2 separate regions of the Homo sapiens genome follow, and region 2 is linked to region 1. Evidence: fine-mapped expression QTL. A gene starts in region 1. The other region holds a variant in brackets. All regions are shown on one strand. Distances are between the middles of the regions.

Evidence for each region.
Region 2: its variant is fine-mapped to the expression of DRC9 in prefrontal cortex (CommonMind, PIP 0.95).

What each region holds. Positions count from the first base shown.
Region 1 is chr3:197,956,684-197,966,613 of GRCh38, reverse strand. It overlaps DRC9 (dynein regulatory complex subunit 9), which reads left to right and starts at 6,623. Exons shown (of 12, transcript NM_032263.5): 1 at 6,623-6,769; 2 at 6,895-7,085. LMLN (leishmanolysin like peptidase) reads right to left here and starts at 6,397. Exons shown (of 17, transcript NM_001136049.3): 1 at 6,174-6,397. The coding sequence starts at 6,368. RefSeq lists a silencer at 6,339-6,568 and an enhancer at 7,120-7,620.
Region 2 is chr3:197,908,917-197,918,846 of GRCh38, reverse strand. It overlaps DRC9 (dynein regulatory complex subunit 9), which reads left to right. Exons shown (of 12, transcript NM_032263.5): 8 at 4,805-4,966; 9 at 6,098-6,172. LOC124906330 (a long non-coding RNA gene) reads right to left here. Exons shown (of 2, transcript XR_007096246.1): 2 at 8,516-9,930. Among named protein-coding and RNA genes, the nearest start is that of RPL35A, 36 kb to the left of the region's middle. RefSeq lists enhancers at 5,002-5,633, 5,017-6,216. The variant A/GCACA (reference allele first, on the strand shown) is at 5,522.

The DNA of each region.
Region 1 (9,930 bases):
GTATCAACTGGTGCAGGAAAGACAGTTAACAAAATTCAACATCCATCCATGATTAAAAAAAAAAAAAACTCTTAGAAAACTAGGTATAGAAGGGAATTTTCTTAATTTTATAAAGCATACCTACCCAAAAACTCCACAATTAATATTTTTAACAGTGGAAGACAATGTTTTCCCTCTAAGATCAGAAACAAGACAAGGATGTCTACTCTCACCACTCTTATTCAACATCATGCCCCAGACAGTGTGATAATATTAACATTAAAGATGTAATAGGCCAGGTGCAGTGGCTCATGCCTGTAATCCCAACACTTTGGGAGGCTGAGGCGGGTGGATCACTTGAGGTCAGGAGTTTGAGACTAGCCTGGCTAACATGGCGAAACTTGTCTCTACTAAAAATACAAAAATTAGCCGGGCATGATGGCAGGTGCCTGTAATCCCAGCTACTCTGGAGGCTGAGGCAGGAGAATTGCTTGAACCCAGGAGGCAGAGGTTGCAGTGAGCCAAGATTGTGTCACTGCACTCCAGCCTGGGCAACGGAGAGAGACTCTGTCTCAAAAATAAAAACATGCAATAAACAAAAGATATATGTTGTAATGCCTAAAATGCACAAGCACACACACATACACACAGGTAAATGTAGGCAACTGAAAAGATACACATGTAAGCTTGAACCACAAGCAAGCTAAATACACCTATTTTCTCCTGTATTAATACAGTCTTTATTAGGCTAGAACACAGTGGTGCCAACCTGGCTCACTGCAGCCTTCACCTCCTGGGCTCAAGTGATTCCCCCACCTCAGCCCCACCAAGTAGGTGGGACTACAGGTGTACAACACCACACCCAACTAATTTTTGTATTTTTTGTAGACACGGGGTTTCACTAAGTTGCCCAGGCTGGTCTTGAACTCCTGAGCTCAAGCGATTTGCCATCCCGGCCTCCAAAAGAGCTAGACTTATAGGCATGAGTGACTGTACTTGGCCAATAGTTTTTAATAGAGAAAATCTGAAGTAAAGTATCAATCACCTCAGCTTATTAACATGTATAGAAATCTATATTCAATAACTACAGAATAGGCCAGGTACAGTGACTCATGTCTATAATCCCAGCACTTTGGGAGGCCAAGGCAGGAGGATTGCTTGAGTCCAGGAGCTCAAGACCAGCCCGGGCAACATACTGAGATCCCATCTCTAAAACAATAAAATAAAAAAAAACTATAGAATATATATTCTTCACAAGTACACGTGAAAAATTAAACAGGATAGATCATATTCTAAACCATAAATAAAATAATCTCAGCCAGGTGCAGTGGCTCACGCTTGTAATCCCAGCACTTTGGGAGGCTGAAGCAGGAGGATTGCTTGAAACTGGGAGTTCAAGACCAATCTGGGCAACACAGCAAGACTCTGTCTCTACAAAAATAAAAATAAAAAATGTGCCAGGTGTGGTGGCATGTGGCTGAAGTCCTAGCTCCTCATAAGGTTGAGGCGGGGAGACTGCTTGAACACAGGAGTTCGAGGTGGCAGTGAGCTATGATCATATCACTGCACTCCAGCCTGGGTGACAGAGGGACACCTTGTCTCTTTCTTTCTTTTTTTTTTTTTTTTTGAGACAGAGTTTCGCTCTTGTCGCCCAGGCTGGAATGCAGTGGCACAATCTCAGCTCACTACAAACTCCACCTCCTGAATTCAAGCAATTCTCCTGCCTCAGCCTCCAGAGTAGCTGGGATTAAAAGTGCCCGCCACCATACCTGGTTAATTTTTGTATTTTTAGTAGAGACAGGTCTCGCCATGTTGGCCAGGGTGGTCTCAAACTCCTGACCTAAGGTGATCCACCCACCTCGGCCTCCCAAAGTGCTGGGATTACAGGCATGAGCCACTGCACCCGACCAAGACCCTGTCTCTTAAAAAACTTTTTTAGGCCGGGCGTGGTGGCTCACGCCTGTAATCCCAGCACTTTGGGAGGCCAGGGCAGGCAGATTACAAGGTCAAGAGATCAAAACCATCCTGGCCAACATGGTGAAACCCCATCTCCACTAAAAATACAAAAATTAGCTGGGTGTGGTGGCGTGCACCTGTAGTCCCAACTACTCAGGAGGCTGAGGCAGGGTAATAGCTTGAACCCAGGAAGCCGAGGTTGCTCTGCTGAGATTGCGCCACTGCACTCCAGCCTGGGCAACAGAGCAAGACTCTGTCTCAAAAAAAAAAAACAAAAAACAAAAAACAAAAAAAAAATTTTAACCTAAATGATAATTAAAATGCAAAGTGTCAAAATTTGTGAAGAGCAGCTAAAGTTGTACTTAGAAATTTATATCTTTGAATGTTTACATTAGAAGGAAAAAAAGGTTAAAAAACAGTCATCTAAGTTTCCGCCTAACAATATGAGCAAACTAAATCCACAATAAGTAGAAAAAGGAAATAACAAAGAACAGAAAACAATGAAATAGAAACAAACATTAAAGAAAATTACCAAAGCCAACATGACCAAGTAAGGTTTATCCCAAAAAAGCAACGTTGATTTACTATTGGAAAATGCAATGTAATCTACCACATAACAGTTCATAAAGTGAGAAACTATATGATTATCTCAATAATTACCAGAAAAAACAAAAAGCATTTGACAAAATTTGTCCCCATTCAGGATAAAAACCCTCGGGAAACCAGAAACCAAAGGGAGCTTTCTCAATCTGATAAAGGGAACTACAAAAAAATGTAAAGTTAACATCATACTTAATGGTCAGAGACTGGTCCTAAGATCAGGAACAAATGGCAAGGAGGCGTGCTATCTCACTTTTGCTCAGCCTGGAACTGCCTGTCCTCACCAGAGCAATAAGGGGGAAAAAATACATAAATGATACAAAACTACAACAACAAAAATTGTTCCTATTTATAGTTAATACATTGCTAACATCAAAAATTGTAAGGGAGGAAACCCTAGTAGAATAAATAAGTTTAGCTAGGTCTCAGAAGACAAGGTTAATATACAAAAATTATTTCTACCTACTAGCAGTGTATTTTTACATACTAGCAGCAAACAACTGGAAAACTTTAACCATAATTCCACTGACAATGGCATCAAAAAATAAAAGACTTAGGAAAACATTTAACAAAAAACATGCAAGATCTGGCTGGGCACGGCGGCTCATGCCTGTAATCCTGGCACTTTGGGAGGTCGAGGCAGGAGGATCGCCTAAGGCCAGGAGTTCAAAACCCACCTGGACTCTGTCTCAACAAAAAATAAAAAATTAGCCAAGTGTAGTGGCGCATACTTGGGAGTCCCAGCTACTTGGGAGATTAAGGCAGAAGGATCATTTGAGCCCAGGAGTTCAAGCCTGCTGTGAGCTATGATTCTGCCACTGCACTCCAGCCTGAGTGACAGAGCAAGACTGTCTCAAAACAAAACAAAAAAAAAAAAGAGAGAGAAAAGAAAACAGAAGAAAAAATGCAAGATCTATACATTTTTGCTGAGAAAAATTATGCATCACCTCAATAAATGGAGAAACATACATTATGTTCATGGATTGAAAGACTTGATACTGTTAGATGTCAATTATCTCCAAATCATCTATAGAGTAAATGCAATCCCAATCATAAACCCATCAGGCTTTTTTGAAGAAACTGAGAAGCTGACTCTAAAATTTATATGGATCTGTCTTTGAGCCTCCCCCTGCCAAAAAATAAATAAATTTATATGGAAATATAAAAGCCTTAAAATAGCCAAAATCATTTTGAAAAGGAAGAACAAAGCAGGAATGCTTACAATAACAATACTGTCTGATTTCAATATTTATTACAGAGGTACATAATCCAGGCAACTGAATACCCATATGGGGCAAAAAAAAAAAAAAAGGATATTGATCCCCTATCTCACATCATATATAAAAATTAATTTCAGATGAATCATAATCCTAAAAGTGAAGGCTTCTAGAACACAGGAGAATATTTTTATGACCTAGGGGGTATTTAAAGATTTCTTAGAAAGGACATCTGTTGGTGAGGATATGCAGCAACCATAACTAATATTTTGTTGATGGGGGTGTAAAATGGTAGAGTATTTTGGAGAAAGGGTTAGTATTTTTTATAAACATTCACCTACCCTTGACCCAGTAATTTCACCCCTAGGTATTTATCCAAGAACAATGAAAACATATATCCACAAAAATTACTGTACAAGAATATTGACAGCAGCTTTATTTATAATAGCTAAAATCTGGAAGAAACCAAAATACCCATCTTTGAACAAGATAACGGAAAAACAAATTGTGATATAAGTATTCAATGGAATACTCAGCAATTCAAAGGAATAAATTACTATCACATACAACACGAATCTCACAGACATAATGCTGAGCAGATGCCAAATACAGAGGAGTACATACCATATAATTCCATTCAATACACGAAGCTCTAGAATTGGCCAAACTAATCTAGTATTTAAAAAAAAAACAATTAGAAAACTAGTTGCCTGGGGTGGGCAGGAGACTGGCACAGGACAGGAGGGAACGTCTGGAGATGTGGGAACGTTCTATGTTGTGATGGGTTGTATGCTTTATGTGGATGTGCATGGATACATTTGTGGCATTTCAATATATGTAAATTTTACCAAAAAACTTCAAAAGAACAGTAACTCAAGTAGGGGGCTGCGGAATGGCTGAAAGTATATGAAACAAGAATGGCGGAACCTTAAAGCTAGGTGTTAAAGCTAGGTGATGGGTCCATGCGGGTTCATTAAATTATTCTGATGTTGTTTGTACCGGCGTAATAAAAGGTAAAAACAAAACTTACAGGCTTTAGTTGAGAACCAGTTAAAAAGTAAAACTGTTTTGTAGCTCCCCAACACCACCAAAACCAAAAAAGTTATGTAATTTCCTGTAGCATTGAACAGAGGTATAGTCATTAGCGTAACTACAGTGAACACTGTAGCTCCTGGCTATACTCCGTGTCCAGGTTAAAACAAGGAGAATAGTGAGGACGACAGGGTATTTATATACTCTATGAGGAACTAGCGAAACGTATTAGGGACCAGGACTCTTTCTCTTATTTTAATCCAAATTAAAAGAGAGAAGTGCAGGGTTTTGTGGGAAATTTTTTTTAAAGAATTCAGCGAAAATGCAGCATGATAAAAGCTGCAAAAAAGCTATAAACTCCGAAGTTAATATTTTGGCTCACTTGGTTATGAAGAGTATGCATGTAACATTTTGGGAAATTACCATAAAAATGAGTGTCTTTAGATTTCTGGGCTGAATTGAACATGTGTAGGTGTATCAGCATGCAGCCCTGCCCCAGGTACTCTCCCTTTCTCAAAGAATATGGATTATCGTGGACCCACCTCTGACCTAAATACTGTGAAGGAATCAAAGTATGAAACACAAACCTTATCCCACGGAACCTTATAATCTAACTGCAAAGGCAAGATACGCCTAAAAAATAAGCCATTATCCCATAGCAGTACTTGGTTAAATGCCAGGAGGGAGTACAGACACGATGTACTTTTTAATGAAAAGAATATTGCGCTGTGGTGGTTTCAGCAGGCTGCCTTGAGGTTAGGGAATTTGAAATGAGACAAAGAATTTAAGCAGAGAGAAAAATGGGATGGGAGGCGGGCAGGCACTTCCAGAGCAGAGGAACCGGGTAAAGCAAACAAAGTGACGACATAACGTGAAAAGAAACCTGAATTTTGTCTCCAGTGAGCCCCCAACGTCCCACCAACGCCTCTATCTGGCTCTCCGTTCAATGTCTTCCCGAAACTTCAGGTCAGCGGTTCCTAAAGTGGTCCCCGGACAAGCATATCTCACCAACCAGCTGGGAACGTAAACTGTCAACTCTGGGGACTCATCCCAGACCTACTGAGTCACTAAGTGGGGGACTGAGGGCGGCAATCCGTGTTGTACCATGTGCGTCGGGTGACTGTGATGCACGCTCAAGTTTGAAAACCACTCCTCGAGGGCTACTGCTAAGCACAACCCTCCGCACAGAAGTGATACTGTTCTGAGCGCCTAACAGCCAACTTGCAGGGTGTAGGGAGCTGAGAGCGGGTCCCAGGCCTGTAAGAGTCAGGCTCTGCCCCAATTTCGCTTTCTCATCCAGGACACCTTCTCCCAGTCACTATCTCCTACGCCTGCTCCTTCTGGGTGACTTTACCCTGAGAGGGCCCGCTCCCGCCCATGTCGCCCTACCTCAGTGTCAGAGGGGACGTGGTGCCGGCAGGGAGGGGAACTGCCCAAGGAGACGGGAGTAGATGTGGCGCTGGCCCGGAGCCCGCCCAACAGGAGTAAAACGCTTCGGACCCACACAGACCCGCTCCAGCGCCACCGGCTCCGGCCCGGGCCTGAGCCCGAGTAACCCACTCCTCCGCCCCATTCGGCCGCCATCTTCGGGCCGAGCGTCGTTACCATGGAGTGCGTGACGCCTCTGCGCCCGCGCCGGCCCCGCCCCTCGCCGCTGGGGGTAGACGGAGGGCCCAGCCGGCGGAAAGGCGCTTTCCGATTGGACAGCGTCACCCGCTAGAAGTTCGCCGCAGAAGATGAGGGCGGCGATCACGTCCATCGCGTCTCGTGGCGCGAAGCCGGCCAATAAATGCTGTTTGGAGGCCCACGTGAGTGGGGCTGTGGGAGGAAGAAAGGCTAGCGGGCGTTGGCCGTATGTGGGTGTCTTGAGGCAGTTTTTCAGTTCTTTCATTTACCAAAGTGACATGCACCTACTAGGTGCCAGGTGTTTAGACGTACATACAACCCTCTGCAAAATCTTTCAGTGTAGTCCTCTGTATGAAAAGGTGAGTGGAATACTTTCATTTACTTATCCTGAGTCACCAACTTTAGGCCCATTACTTAACTAACGCCATTTCCTATAAAAATCTATGATACACCGTTTACTGTTTTACTCAACTCCATCTTTTAGTTTCCAGCCAAGAATTGCCACTGCACCTGAGATAAGGGGGATCCTGGCCATTAAGGAAACCTTGCCTTCGAAACTGAGCCGTGAGGAACTATACAAAATGGGAAATTGGGACAAATCCCAGTGGCTCATGACACTAAGAAGTAAAATTACGAACTCACTGAGCTGGAAGTCATTCAACGGGAATTGAATAGGTAAGCTACTATACTGGGAAATGAAGGAGTAGGAAAGAAGGAAAACCTCAAGTTACAAACTATGGGTGGAGATTCAGCTACGAGGATGGGGTGGTGTTTTAAGTATTACCATTTTACAAGTAAATACTCACTAAATGTGTGTATCATCCCACAACTAGTGGAAGGTGGGATTCCAAACCACATTTGTAACTTAGGAAACGTGCCCTTTCCACTACAATACCACAAATAAATTGCTATTGTGAATAAAGAATGGAACCAGTCATCCTAAGCTCCTGGCTGTAACAATAGTGTTATGCTGAGGAAAGGCTGTTTCTTTTTTTTTTGAGACGGAGTTTCACTCGTCGCCCAGGCTGGAGTGCAGTGACACAATCTCGGCTCAATGCAACCTCTGCCTCCCGGGATCAAGCTATTCCCCTGCCTCAGCCTCCCGAGTAGCCGGGATTACAGGCACCCGCCACCACGCCCGGCCAATTTTTATGTTTTTAGTAGAGACGTAGTTTCACCACGTTGGCCAGGCTGGTCTCAACCTCATGACCTCAGGTGATCCGCCCGCCTCCGCCTCCCAAAGTGTTGGGATTACAGGCGTGAGCCACCGCGCCCAGCCAGGAGGCAAAGCTGTTTCAATGGTGTAGTGGACAAGTTACCAGCCACGCAAGCCCTTTCCTGTAAACCACAGGACTCCTCCTTTGGCAACGGTGACTTGAGTACTTTTGACTTAATTTCCATATGGGAGGAGAAAAACATAAAAACATACATTTATTATTTACAAATGCTGCATCATCTCAGTAAGGAAGAGCATGTATTTGCTTTTGAGTCTCATTTGCCATTGCACATGTAAGTTACTCGAGTTAAAGTCTCAACCGTTTGTTTTCCCCCGCTTTGCTCAGATGCCTACCACTTACCGTGTGTCTGTTCCACTCAGAATACCATCCACTTCTCCATATGCCTAACCCAGACCTGAAATACCCATCTGTCTTCATGGATATGTCCACAGGTTAACATCTTACAGCTTCCTCAAATTCAACTTTAGCTCCTCCCACAAAACCATCTCCTGATTCCCCAACTTTGTAAATGCACCATTATCCATCCAGCCCCCAAAGCCAGAAACATGTTAGAATTCTCCATTTGAGACTGAAAAGCCCACCTAATTTTCCCTTGTTTATGCTGGGATGCCATTGGGATTTGAAATAATCTGAGCTGGTGGCTCATATCTGTAATCCCAGTACTTTAGGAGAACAAGGCAGGGGGATCACTTGAGGCCAGGAATCGAGACCAGCCTGGGACCCCGAAAAAACATTTTAATTGGCTGGACGTGCCTGGCATGCACCAGATTCTCTGGAGGTTGTGGGCAGGGGATTGTCTGAGCCTAGAAGTTCAAAGGTGCAGTGAGCTATGATCACACCACTGCACTACAGGCTGGGCAACAGAAACCCTGTCTCAAATGAGTAAATTTTAAAATTTCCTGTGAATCAAGTTCTTCAGTGACGTTGTATTACACTCAAGAACAATCTTAAGCCTAAGATCCTCAGTTCAGTACAGGAGACCTCTCATGTGGCATTTTAGTTTTCTGGACTTTCCAGTCAGCCACTTGTGTTCCTAAAATCTTCCTGCCATTTCCTCTTTGAGATGCCGCCCTATTTCTTCCTCTACACTTTACGGTTTTATGTTACGCAGCCAGTATACCTACATGCCTCTATCCCTGAATACCCCGAGTACTACTGATCACATCTACTTAACTGGCACAATGAACACAGTAGGTACTTTTAGCTTATGTTGGCCTTTTGGAGTGGGTGTCCAAGATCAGCACTTCCTCGCGCTGACTGCGTAATTCCCAAGTTCAATTTCATTAGCATTCTAATATACAACTTCCAACTTCCGGCCTTGAAGTACTGCTCACTTCTGGTGAATACAGCATCAGTGCACTTTGTTTGCCTTAAAACCACAATCCTGGGAGGCTGAGACAGAATGGCGTGAACCCGGGAGGCGGAGCGTGCAGTGAGCCAAGATTGCGCCACTGCACTCCAGCCTAGACGACAGAGCAAGACTGTCTCAAAAAAAAAAAAAAAAAAACCACCACAATCCTAATAAATGAGCCTGGCAGAGTACTAACACAAGCCCATGTCCACGAAGCACGGGACTCCAACAATGGCAGCTTTGGCTTGCATACCACCATTGGACTGACCAAACCTTTCTTAGAACTGCCAGTGTGACAGAGGGACCTCTGGGGGAGGGCGTCTTGCTTTCTCTTGGGTCAGTATATCTCACTACCCTCTTTGTAGGTTAGCAGATTTGTAACAGGATGTTACTGGAGGAAGGGGAAGTGGGAAAGCTGGACAGTATTCCCACTCTTTTCCCTTACTACAAAAACTTTCCTTCTCAGTCCTGTCTCCAGGAGATGGAAGACCAAATAACACAACAGCCAGTGTGCTTTTCCTACCCAATCCTTTCTTTCACCCTCTTATCCTAATACATTTCCAGCATGTTAATTCTTTTGCAGCATAGACAAGAGAACCCATACACGCTGCAAAACTGCAAAAGGGCTTAGGTGGCAAACTCCCAGTTTCTTGTTGACATTTTCAGTGCAATTTAAAGATGTTAATTTAAAAAACTACCTGTGCTGTAGAGATCAGTAACCCTCAGGGGGCAGACAAAAAGACTGTTACTGCATCAGTTAGAAATGTAGTACTACCTGGGCAACATAGTGAGGCCCATCTCCACAAATAACTAAAAAGTTAACTGGTTGTGGCTGCACATGCCTGTGGCCCCAGCTATTTAGGAGGCTGAGGCAGGAGGTTTGCCTGAGCCGAGGAGGTTGAGGTTGAGGTTGCAGTAAGCTGTAATCACG
Region 2 (9,930 bases), 48 kb after region 1:
ACAAGAGCAAAACTCGGTCTAAAACAACAACAATAAAAAACACTTCCATGATGCAGTACCTTCTGTTTACCATGGGCAGAAGCTAAAGACTTTTAACTCTGCATTTCTGATCTTCAGACTGTTACTCTGAAGTCTTAATATTCCATTTGAGAAAGAAAAATTACCAGAACATGCTCTTGAGTTTTCAAAAGTATATTTTTGTATGTACGGACACTATTCAATAAATCCCTGTCTAACACTATTTAGATTCTGTGAGAAACAAAACTACAGTTATCAATGTGGGCTGAGGTTTTCTGCAAAAGGCTTTATTTACTTGAGTGATATATAAGGTGGACCTTGAAGGAAATCTAAGGGATTATATAGGTAAAAGGATTCCAGTTGATGAAGAAGTAAAACCATCACATTTTTGCTTTAACTCTAGTCTTCCTAAAGATTCAAACCTATACCAGGCACAGTGGCTCATGCCTGTAATCCCAGCACATTGGGAGGCCGAGGCAGGTAGATTGTTTGAGACCAGGAGTTTGAGACCAGCCTGGGCAACATGGCAAAACCCCATCTCTACCAAAAAAAAAAAAAAAAAAAAAAAAAGCAAAAAATTAGCTGGGTGTGGTGGCGTGGTAGCACGTACATGTAGGCCCAGCTACTCGGGAGGTTGAGGTGGGAGGCGGAGATTGCAGTGAGCCAAGATCGCACCATTGCACTCCAGCCTGGGCAACAGAGAGATCTTGTCTCAAAAAAAAAAAAAAAAGATTCACTGACTGCCATACAATTTGGAAATAGAAGGGAGGGAAGAGGAAGAAGGAGGAGAAATGGGCTGGGCATGGTGGCTCATGCCTGTAATCCCAGCACTTTGGGAGGCTGAGGCGGGCAGATCCCCTGAGGTCAGGAGCTGGAGACCAGCCTGGCCAACATGGTGAAACCCCATCTCTACTAAAAAGAAATTAAAAAATTAGCCAGGCATGGTGGCACATGCCTGTAATCCCAGCTACTTGGGAGGCTGAGGCAGGAGAATCGCTTGAACCCGGGAGGCAGAGGTTGCAGTGAGCCAAGATCGCACCACTGCACTCCAGCCTGGGCAACACAGCGAGACTCTGTCTCAAAAAAAAAAAAGAGAAAAGAGAAATGGGGAAGACAGGGGAGAAGGGAAGTGCGTATAGAAAGAATGGAAGAAAAACAGTGAGCCAAAAGCAGACATCTCTTAAAATTCATTTCATCAACATTTATTGAGCATATAAGTTGTGCCAGGCACTCCAGCCTGGGCAGGATTTTACAGATGAGAAAATAGGCTTAGTGAGGTCCAGTAATTTGCCTGCAATCCTACAACTTGTAAGAGAATATGAAATATTAAGACATATTTTCAAAGGGCCTATAGCATATTCTGTGCCAGAGATGCTCCGTCTCTTAGGAATGATTCCGATCTAGTTGGAATAACTGTCATACAATTAGAATGATTCTGCAGAGTTATATCAAGAAGCTAGTAGACAAAATAACTTGAAGAATTCCGTTCTGATTCATCTTAGGGACCTTTTTGAGACAGGGTCTTGCTCTGTTGCCCAGGCTAAAGTGCAATGGCATGAGCATAGCTCACTGCAGCCTCGGCCTCCGGGGCTCAAGGGAGTCTACCACTTCAGCCTCCCTAGTAGCTGGGACTACAGGCGCATGCCACCAGGCCCAGCTAATTTTTAAATTTTTTTGTAGAGACAGGTTTTCACTGTGTTGCCCAGGCTGCTCTTGAACTCCTGGGTTCAAGCGAGCCTCCTGCCTTGGTTTCCCAAAGCATTGGAATTACAGGCGTGAGCCACCCCACCAGGTTGGGGCCTAATGATACTTTAAGTCAAGCTTGTCCAACCTGTAGCCCGCAGGCCACATGCGGCCCAGGATGGCTTTGACTGGGGCCCAACACAAATTCGTAAACTTTCTTAAAACATTATGAGAGATTTTTTTGTGTGATTTTTTTTTTTTTTTAGTTCATCATTGGTGTATTTTGTGTGTGGCCCAACACAATTCTTCTTCCAGTGCGGCCCAGGGAAGCCAAAAGATTGGACACCGCTGCCTATGCTTGCTTTCCTTAACGGAGGATTTGTCCAATTACCACTTTGTTTTTTCTTCCAATGGTTACTTAGAATTAATTCCCTAGGTACTTGGGAGGCTGGAGAGAGGGGATTCCTTGAGTCTAGGAGTTCAAGACTACAGTGAGCTATGCTGGTGACACTGCACTACAGCCTGGGGGACACGGTGGACCCTATCTCAAGAAAGAAAAGAGGCTGGCTGCAGCAGTGGCTCCTGCCTGTAATCCTAGCATGTTGGGAGGCTGAGGTGGGAGGATCATTTGAGCCCAGGGTTTCGAGGCCAGCCTGGGCAACACAGTGAGACTCTGTTTCTACAATAATAATAATAATTAGCTGAGTGTGATGTCATGCACCTGTAGTCCCAACTACTCTGTAGGCTGAGGCAGGAGGATTTCTTGAGCCTGGGAGGTCAAAGTTACAGTGAGCCGTGATCATGCCACTGCACTTCAGCCTGAGTGACAGAACAAGACCGTCTCAAAAACAACAACAACAACAACAACAACAAAGCCGGGCGCAGTGGCTCATGTCTGTGATCCCAGCACTTTGAGAGACCAAGGCAGGAGGATCCCTTGAAGCCAAGAGTTTGAGACCAGCCTGGGCAACAGAGTGAGACCCCCATCTCTAAAAATATTAAAAAGTTAGCCAGGCATGGTGACATGCACCTGTAGTACTAGCTACTTGGGAAGATGGCTTGAGCCCAGGAATTGGAGGTTATAGTGAGCTGTGATCGAGCCACTACACTCCAGCCTGAGTGACAGAGGGAGATCCTGTCTCTAAACAAAAAAATTTTTTTAATACAAAAGAACTAATTCTACCCTACTTACATGGTTAAGACGAAAGGCAATTGGAGGCCAGGCGTGGTGGCTCACGCCTGTAATCCCAGCACTTTGGGAGACCGAGGCAGGTGGATCACCTGAGGTCGGGAGATCAAGACCATCCTGACCAATGTAGAGAAACCCCATCTCTACTAAAAATACAAAATTAGCTGGGTGTGGTGGTGAGCACCTGTAATCCCAGCTACTCAGAAGGCTGAGGCAGGAGGATCACTTGAACCTGGGAGGTGGAGCTTGCAGTAAGCCAAGATCATGCCACTACACTCCAGCCTGGGCAACAAGAGCGAGCCTCCATCTCAAAAAAAATGTAAAAAGAGAAGAAAGGCGGTTGGTATCTAGAGGAGCAGGTCTCGGGTTGAAGCACTTTTGTTGCTAGTCGTGTGCTTGTTTGCTGTGCCGTCAGGTCCCCTCCCTGTGGACTTACTCACACACTGATTCCGCCCAAACAGTTCTTTTCAAACAAATGTTACCTCCCTGACTAAAAGCTTTCCAAGGATTCCCATGACAGTTGGAATAAAATCTGAATTTCTCAGTTGGGTCTCCGGGGTCCTGTGTGGTGCCCTTACCGACCTCCAACCTCATCCTGTCCTCCCCTCAACCCTCACTAGGCTAGAGCCTCCGGAGCTTTCTTTCAGTTCCTGGAATGTATCCAGGTCTTGATTGCTTCAGGATTTGGGCATATACTTATTCTTTTTTTTTTTTTTAGAGTTCCCTTAACCCTATTTTTCTTTTCTTTTTCTTTCCTTTTTTTCTTTTTCTTTTCTTTTTTTTTTTTTTTTTTGAGACAGAATCTCGCTCTATCACCCAGGCTGGACTGCAGTGGCATGATCTCAGCTCACTTCAACCTCCACCTCCCGGGTTCAAGTGATTCTTCTGCCTCAGCCTCCCGAGTAGCTGGGATTACAGGCGCCCGCCACCACTCCCAGCTATTTTTCGTATTTTTAGTAGAGACGGGGTTTCACCATGTTGGCCAGGCTGGTCTCAAACTGCTGACCTCAGCTGGTCGCCATGCCTCAGCCTCCCAAAGTGCTGGGATTACAGGCGTGAGCCCCCGTGCCTGGCCAAGCCTATTTTTCATGTGGTGGGCTTACCTGTCCTTCAGGTATCGAATGAGCCATCGCTTTCCCGAGAGAGTCCTTCTCAGACCTTCCAGAGTCTAATGTACTCCTCCCTTGTTATTTCCTCCCACAGCCTCTCGAGCCTTCCTTTTCTATCATTTTGCACAATTTTTGGAAGTTTACACATGTGTTTGTCTCTTTTTAACCACCTCTCTTCTATTAGACTGTAAGCTCTATGAGGGAAGGGAATATGTCTGTTTAGATCTCCACAATTTTCCTAGCTCAGTGCCTGGTGCTGAATAAATATTTTTCTTAATGACTATTGAGTCCTCACAATTGCCAAGCACTTGGTGACCTGCAAAAAGAAAGCGTTTTCACACGTGTTCTCAAGGAAACCTAATAATCACTCTCTGAGATACTTCAGGCAGGTTGGGTGTTTGTATGTTTGTGTGTTTGTTTTATAGAAAGTAAAAAGTTGGAGATTTGACTTGGCCAAGTTCACACAGCTGGAGGCCTGGGTGGGAAGTCAGTTCTTTTGATCATTTTGACCAGTGTTCTTCCTACCAAAATGAGAAAGCTGTGTGGGACATACGGAGTACAGCAATAATGTGCCTGGGAACTAATCTCACAGCCCTGATGCGCCCTGATTCTTAGAAATGCTGTGTTACTCACTTTCATCTATACACTTCATGATTGTTGGCTAAATTTCCCATTGTGTGACAGCGGAAAAATAGTTCCAGTTCCTTATTGATTTATACGCATAAAAGGGAACCGTAAGCCGCTGACTGAACTGAATGGAGGTAGAATGTATTTTCAATTTAGAAACCTGGTCTTTCCACTACAGAGTCAGAATGAGTATATTGCTAACCTCAAGGACCAACTGCAAGAGATGAAGGCAAAATCCAACTTGGAGAATCGCTACATGAAAACCAATACCGAGCTGCAGATTGCCCAGACCCAGAAAAAGTGTAACAGAACAGAGGAACTCTTGGTGGAAGAGATTGAGGTAATCCCTGGGACATTAGCCAAGAACCCAGGAGATGGCAATTGAGCTGTCACTCCTGATCCCCTCTCAGCTAACAAAGGAGGGAGACAAAGATTTCCCTCCATCTCTATCGGCAACAGCCCCTCCACTTGAGGTTGAAAATAAAAGCCTAAATGAGGATATGCGTGTTCGCAAGCAGAGATTCCAGTGGGCTGTAGCCTCCATCTCCCGCCTCATAATGACTTTGAAAATTGGCTGCACTTTCTCTCCTTGGTCACTTCTTATTTTGGCAAACCAATCACCATTTTTCTGACTAATTATAGGGAGAGGGCAAAACGAGGTGCTTAGTTATGGCAGGATTTTGCTGCTGTTTCTTTCATCTAACCAGTACCTTTCACTCCTCCAGTAAGAAATACAGCATCGAGAGCGCTGAACTTCGTTCAAACCTGAGTTTATAGGATGAGAAGTCACGGTGAAAAATGCCAGGAGGAAGAAAGAAGTGGTAGATCTTCTTTGAGGGGAATGCTAAATGGCACACACGCACGCACGCACACACGCACGCACGCACGCACGCAC[A/GCACA]CACGCAAAGCCAGGCACTAGTCCCAGCTAATCGGAGGTGAGGCAGTGAGGCAGGAGGATCCTTGAGTTTGAAGCCAGCCTGGGCAACTTCAGACTTCAACTAGGGAGACTCCCTTCTCACAAAAAAGAAAAGAAAACAAGAAAGAGCAGCAGGCAGATGGGAAGAGGGAAGCAGGAACAAACGTCCTTGGGCCGTGGAATCTGTGTGTGGGAGGACTCCTCGCTCTGAGACTGACGTGGCTCAAGGCCACGTCAACACTCTTCCTGGCACTCCGGAATCCCCCTTTTTAAGCCCCACAGCCTTGTGCCCTTGGAGCGCCGTTTCTGTCCTTCAGTGGGCACCTCTGTTCAGCTCACGGGATTGTGCTCGTCTCGTTAGGGACACACGCAGTCCACACAGTGCCGCGCCACGTGGCTCTGCAGTGTTGGTGAACAGGAGTTGCAGGGAACTGAAAGCCCGGGATCCCAGCTGGTAAAGGGAGCCTCAGCTACCGACCGAGCTGCTGCTCTCATCTTGAGAACTTCTGATTCCCAGCCCTGCGGGGAAGACGTACTGGTATCTGATTGTTCTTACAGAAACTCAGGATGAAAACCGAAGAAGAGGCCCGGACTCATACAGAGATTGAAATGTTCCTTAGAAAGGAGCAGCAGGTGGGTCCCCACAGCTTTTCTATGCTTTGACTTTTTTTTTGTACTCTGCTTATACTGAGGAAACAAAAAGAATATTTTGAAGGAAAACCAACCATCATTCTTTCAGCCTAATGAACTTTAGCTCATGTTTTCTTTCAGGGTTATGCATCTGAATAGATATCTTATATAGCTGTAATTTGAGAGAGTGCAGGTAAAATTTTGTTTTCTGCTTTTATCATTGAGCTTACATAAGAAATTTTTCGATTTCTATATTGCTGTATACTCATAATTTTCAAATTATGACTTAATTTATGACTTAAAATTTATTAAGTCAAATTATGACCTACAAATTTATGGGCTGGGCACAGTGGCTCACGCCTGTCATCCCAGCACTTTGGGAGGCCGGGGAGGGTGGATCACCTGAGTTCAGGAGTTTGGGACCAGCCTGACCAATATGGTGAAACCCTGTTTCTATTAAAAAATACAAAAATTAGCCGGGCATGGTGGTGCGCCTGTAATCCCAGCTATTCAGGAGGCTGAGGTGGGAGAATTGCTTGAACCTGGGAGGCAGAGGATGCAGTGAGCTGAGATCACGCCACCGTACTCCAGCCTAGGCAACAGAGCGAGACCCCGTCTCAAAAACAAAAACCAAAAAAAGACATAATTTTTAAATTAATTATTTTTAAATTATGACTATATTTAAAAATTTTTCCCAATAGTATAGTGGCCAATAAATAAAAAAGAAAAATAAATAAAGGCCGGACATGGTGGCTCACGCCTGTAATCCCAGCACTTTGGGAGGCAGAGGCCAGCGGATCACCTGAGGTCAGGAGTTCGAGACCAGCCTGGCCAACATGGAGAAACCCCGTCTCTACTAAAAATACAAAAATTAGCCAGGCATGGTGGCGGGCGCCTGTAATCCCAGCTACTCAGAAGGCTGAGGCAATAGAATCGCTTGAACCCAGGAGGCAGAGGTTACAGTGAGCCGAGATCATGCCACTCACTCCAGCCTGGGCAACAGAGCAAGAATCTGTCTCAAAAAAAAAAAAATTTACTAATCTTTTACACTATAAAAATAACATTCCCAGTTGAGTGAAGATTTTTAAAATTACTCATTGCTTTTCATTTTTTATGTTATTACAGTTTCTTTATAAAATAATTGAAAATTGTGTTTAACGTTCCATTGAATGGTTGTGCCACAGTTTATTTGTTACACTTTTTTTTTATATTTAGGTTGTTTCTAAAGTTTGTTATTATAAATAATGCACTCATTAAAGCTTTGCCCAAAGAACTGTTTTTCTTCATGGCAACTATTTACTAAAAGCCAATCTCAGTCATGAGATTTTTGTTTCAGAGACTAGTATTTTGTGACTTTTAATAAACATTGCTAATACTCTCGAATCTGTGCTGCCGTTAGCAGTGTTGCAGGCAGTAATTTCAAGGTCTCTTCAATATTAGTAGCCATTTTCAATATTTTTCAAAGTCTGCTAATTTAATGAGTTGTTTTATTTTTTATTTTTGCTTATTAACAGGTGAACATAACATTTTTCCACATGTTTACTCAATTTATTTCTTCTTGTGTGAAATATATATGACACGGTGGTTTTAAGAGCATTTTCAATACTAATAACCAAGCTGGGTCTATAATATATCTAAGGTTAGAATTATGTCTAAGTCTACCTGGAGTCTTTCTTTCTTTTTTTTTTTTTTTTTGTTTTGTTTTTGAGATGCAGTCTTGCTTTACTGCCCAGGCTGGAGTGCAGTGGCGTGATCTTGGCTCACTGCAACCTCGGCCTCCTGGGCTCAAGCGATTCGCCTGCCTCAGCCTCCTGAGTAGCTGGGATTACAGGCGCACGTCCAGCTAATTTTTGTATTTTTAGTAGAGATGGGGTTTCACTGTGTTGACCAGGCTGGTCTAGAACTCCTGACCTCAGGTAATCCACCTGCCTCGGCCTCCCAAAGTGCTGGGATTACAGGCGTGAGCCACCGTGCCCAGCCCCAGCTGGAGTCTTTCAAAATAACCCTATTGGATGAATAAAGAGAAAATTTTCCAGCTTAGTTATAATACAGCTTGCCTTTGGAAAAAGCTAATGAGTTTTCAGTCAAGGATTCCAAATGTGTGGTTAAAGAGGAGAATTTGTAGATGCTCTCTTGCAGGTCTTTACTGAAAAAAATACCTGGTAGGCTATTAGAATTAGGGTTCTGTAGCCCTGCACTTTAAGAATTATGTATCATGTTACCTGTTTCAAGTGTGAGATACCTGGCAGGTGTTGGATATTTATCAGTGAGTTGGTAGATAAATGGATCACGAAGGGATGACGCCAGAGTTTCCCAGATCTTCAGCCCAATAACACAAGCAATACATAAGTATATATTTTTTTATTTTTTATTTTTTAGGGACAGGGTCTCTCTCTGTTTCCCAGGCTTCAGTGCAGTGGTGCCACCATAGCTCACTGCAGCCTCAAACTCCTGGGCCCAAGTGATCCTCCCACCTCAGCCTCCTGAGTAGCTGGGACTACAGGTGTGCACCACCACGTCCAGCTACAATTTCAGACAGAAATACATAGGTTAAAGAAAGTGAAAGCCCTCTTAAATTACTCCCCTTTCTGAAGGGAAGTTTCTTCCACATGTATTTCTTTTCATATACATACTTATACCTAAAAACATACCTATTCTCAGTGGTGGTTTTTTGTTTTGTTTTGTTTTTGAGAGGAGTCTTGCTCTGTTGCCCAGGCTGGAGTGCAATGGCGCGATCTCGGCTCACTGCAACCTCTGCCTCCAGGTTCAAGTGATTCTCCTGCCAGCCTCCCGAGTAGCTGGGATTACATGCACCTGCCACCACACCTGGCTAATTTTTGTATTTTTGGTAGAGATGGGGTTTCACCATGTTGGTCAGGCTGGTCTTGAACTCCTGCCCTCAAGTGATCTGCTGGCCTCAGCCTCCCAAAGTGCTGGGATTACAGGCATGAGCCACTGCACCCGGCCTAGTATTTGTTTCTTAAGTAAATTGGATCATGCTATATATAGTGTTCCAGAGCCTGTTGTTTTCTTCTTACATTTACTTTGTTTTTAATGTTTTCTGTAGCAGTACAGCTGATTGATAGAATATATCTCACACTCAGAATATACTGAAATTTAGTGAACCATTCTGTCAGTAGATTTAGGTTGTTTCCAGGTTTTTCTGTGATAACATTGCGAAACCTTCTTGGTTCTGTCTCTAAGTGTATGGTATGTGGAAAGGTATTTCTTTTGTGTATTGCTGTGGATTTGTTAAACCCTCTAATGGTTTTTCAGTGGATTCATTTGGATTTCCTAGGTGGAAAATCTTACTGCATGCAAATAACAATTTTATATTATCCTTTTTATTATTTATATGTCTGTTTTCATTTCATGGCTTGTTGTCTAGCTAGAAAGTCCAGTGTACTTGTTGGTTGTAGTAGTGACAATGGGGAATCCTTTTTCTATTATTGGTTGTTAATACAACACCACTGTTCTGGTGTTTTAGTCAGGATTACACATGAGTTTGTCATAGTCATGCCAAGTTACTGATATGCAAGTTAGAGCACTCACAGGGAAAGAACAGGACCCTGAAACTTGGAATGAGAACACCTGCTCAGATTCGGATGAAACTGGCAAATCACTTTAAAGCTCCCTTGGCAGCGGAAGTACCCTGCCCTCCTGTGTCTGAGGACACCGCACTTCCTTTGCCTGAAGATCCTGTGATAACTTCATCTGGGAGGATGCCTTGGAAAGGGTTGCTCGCTCTTCAGACCTGGTAC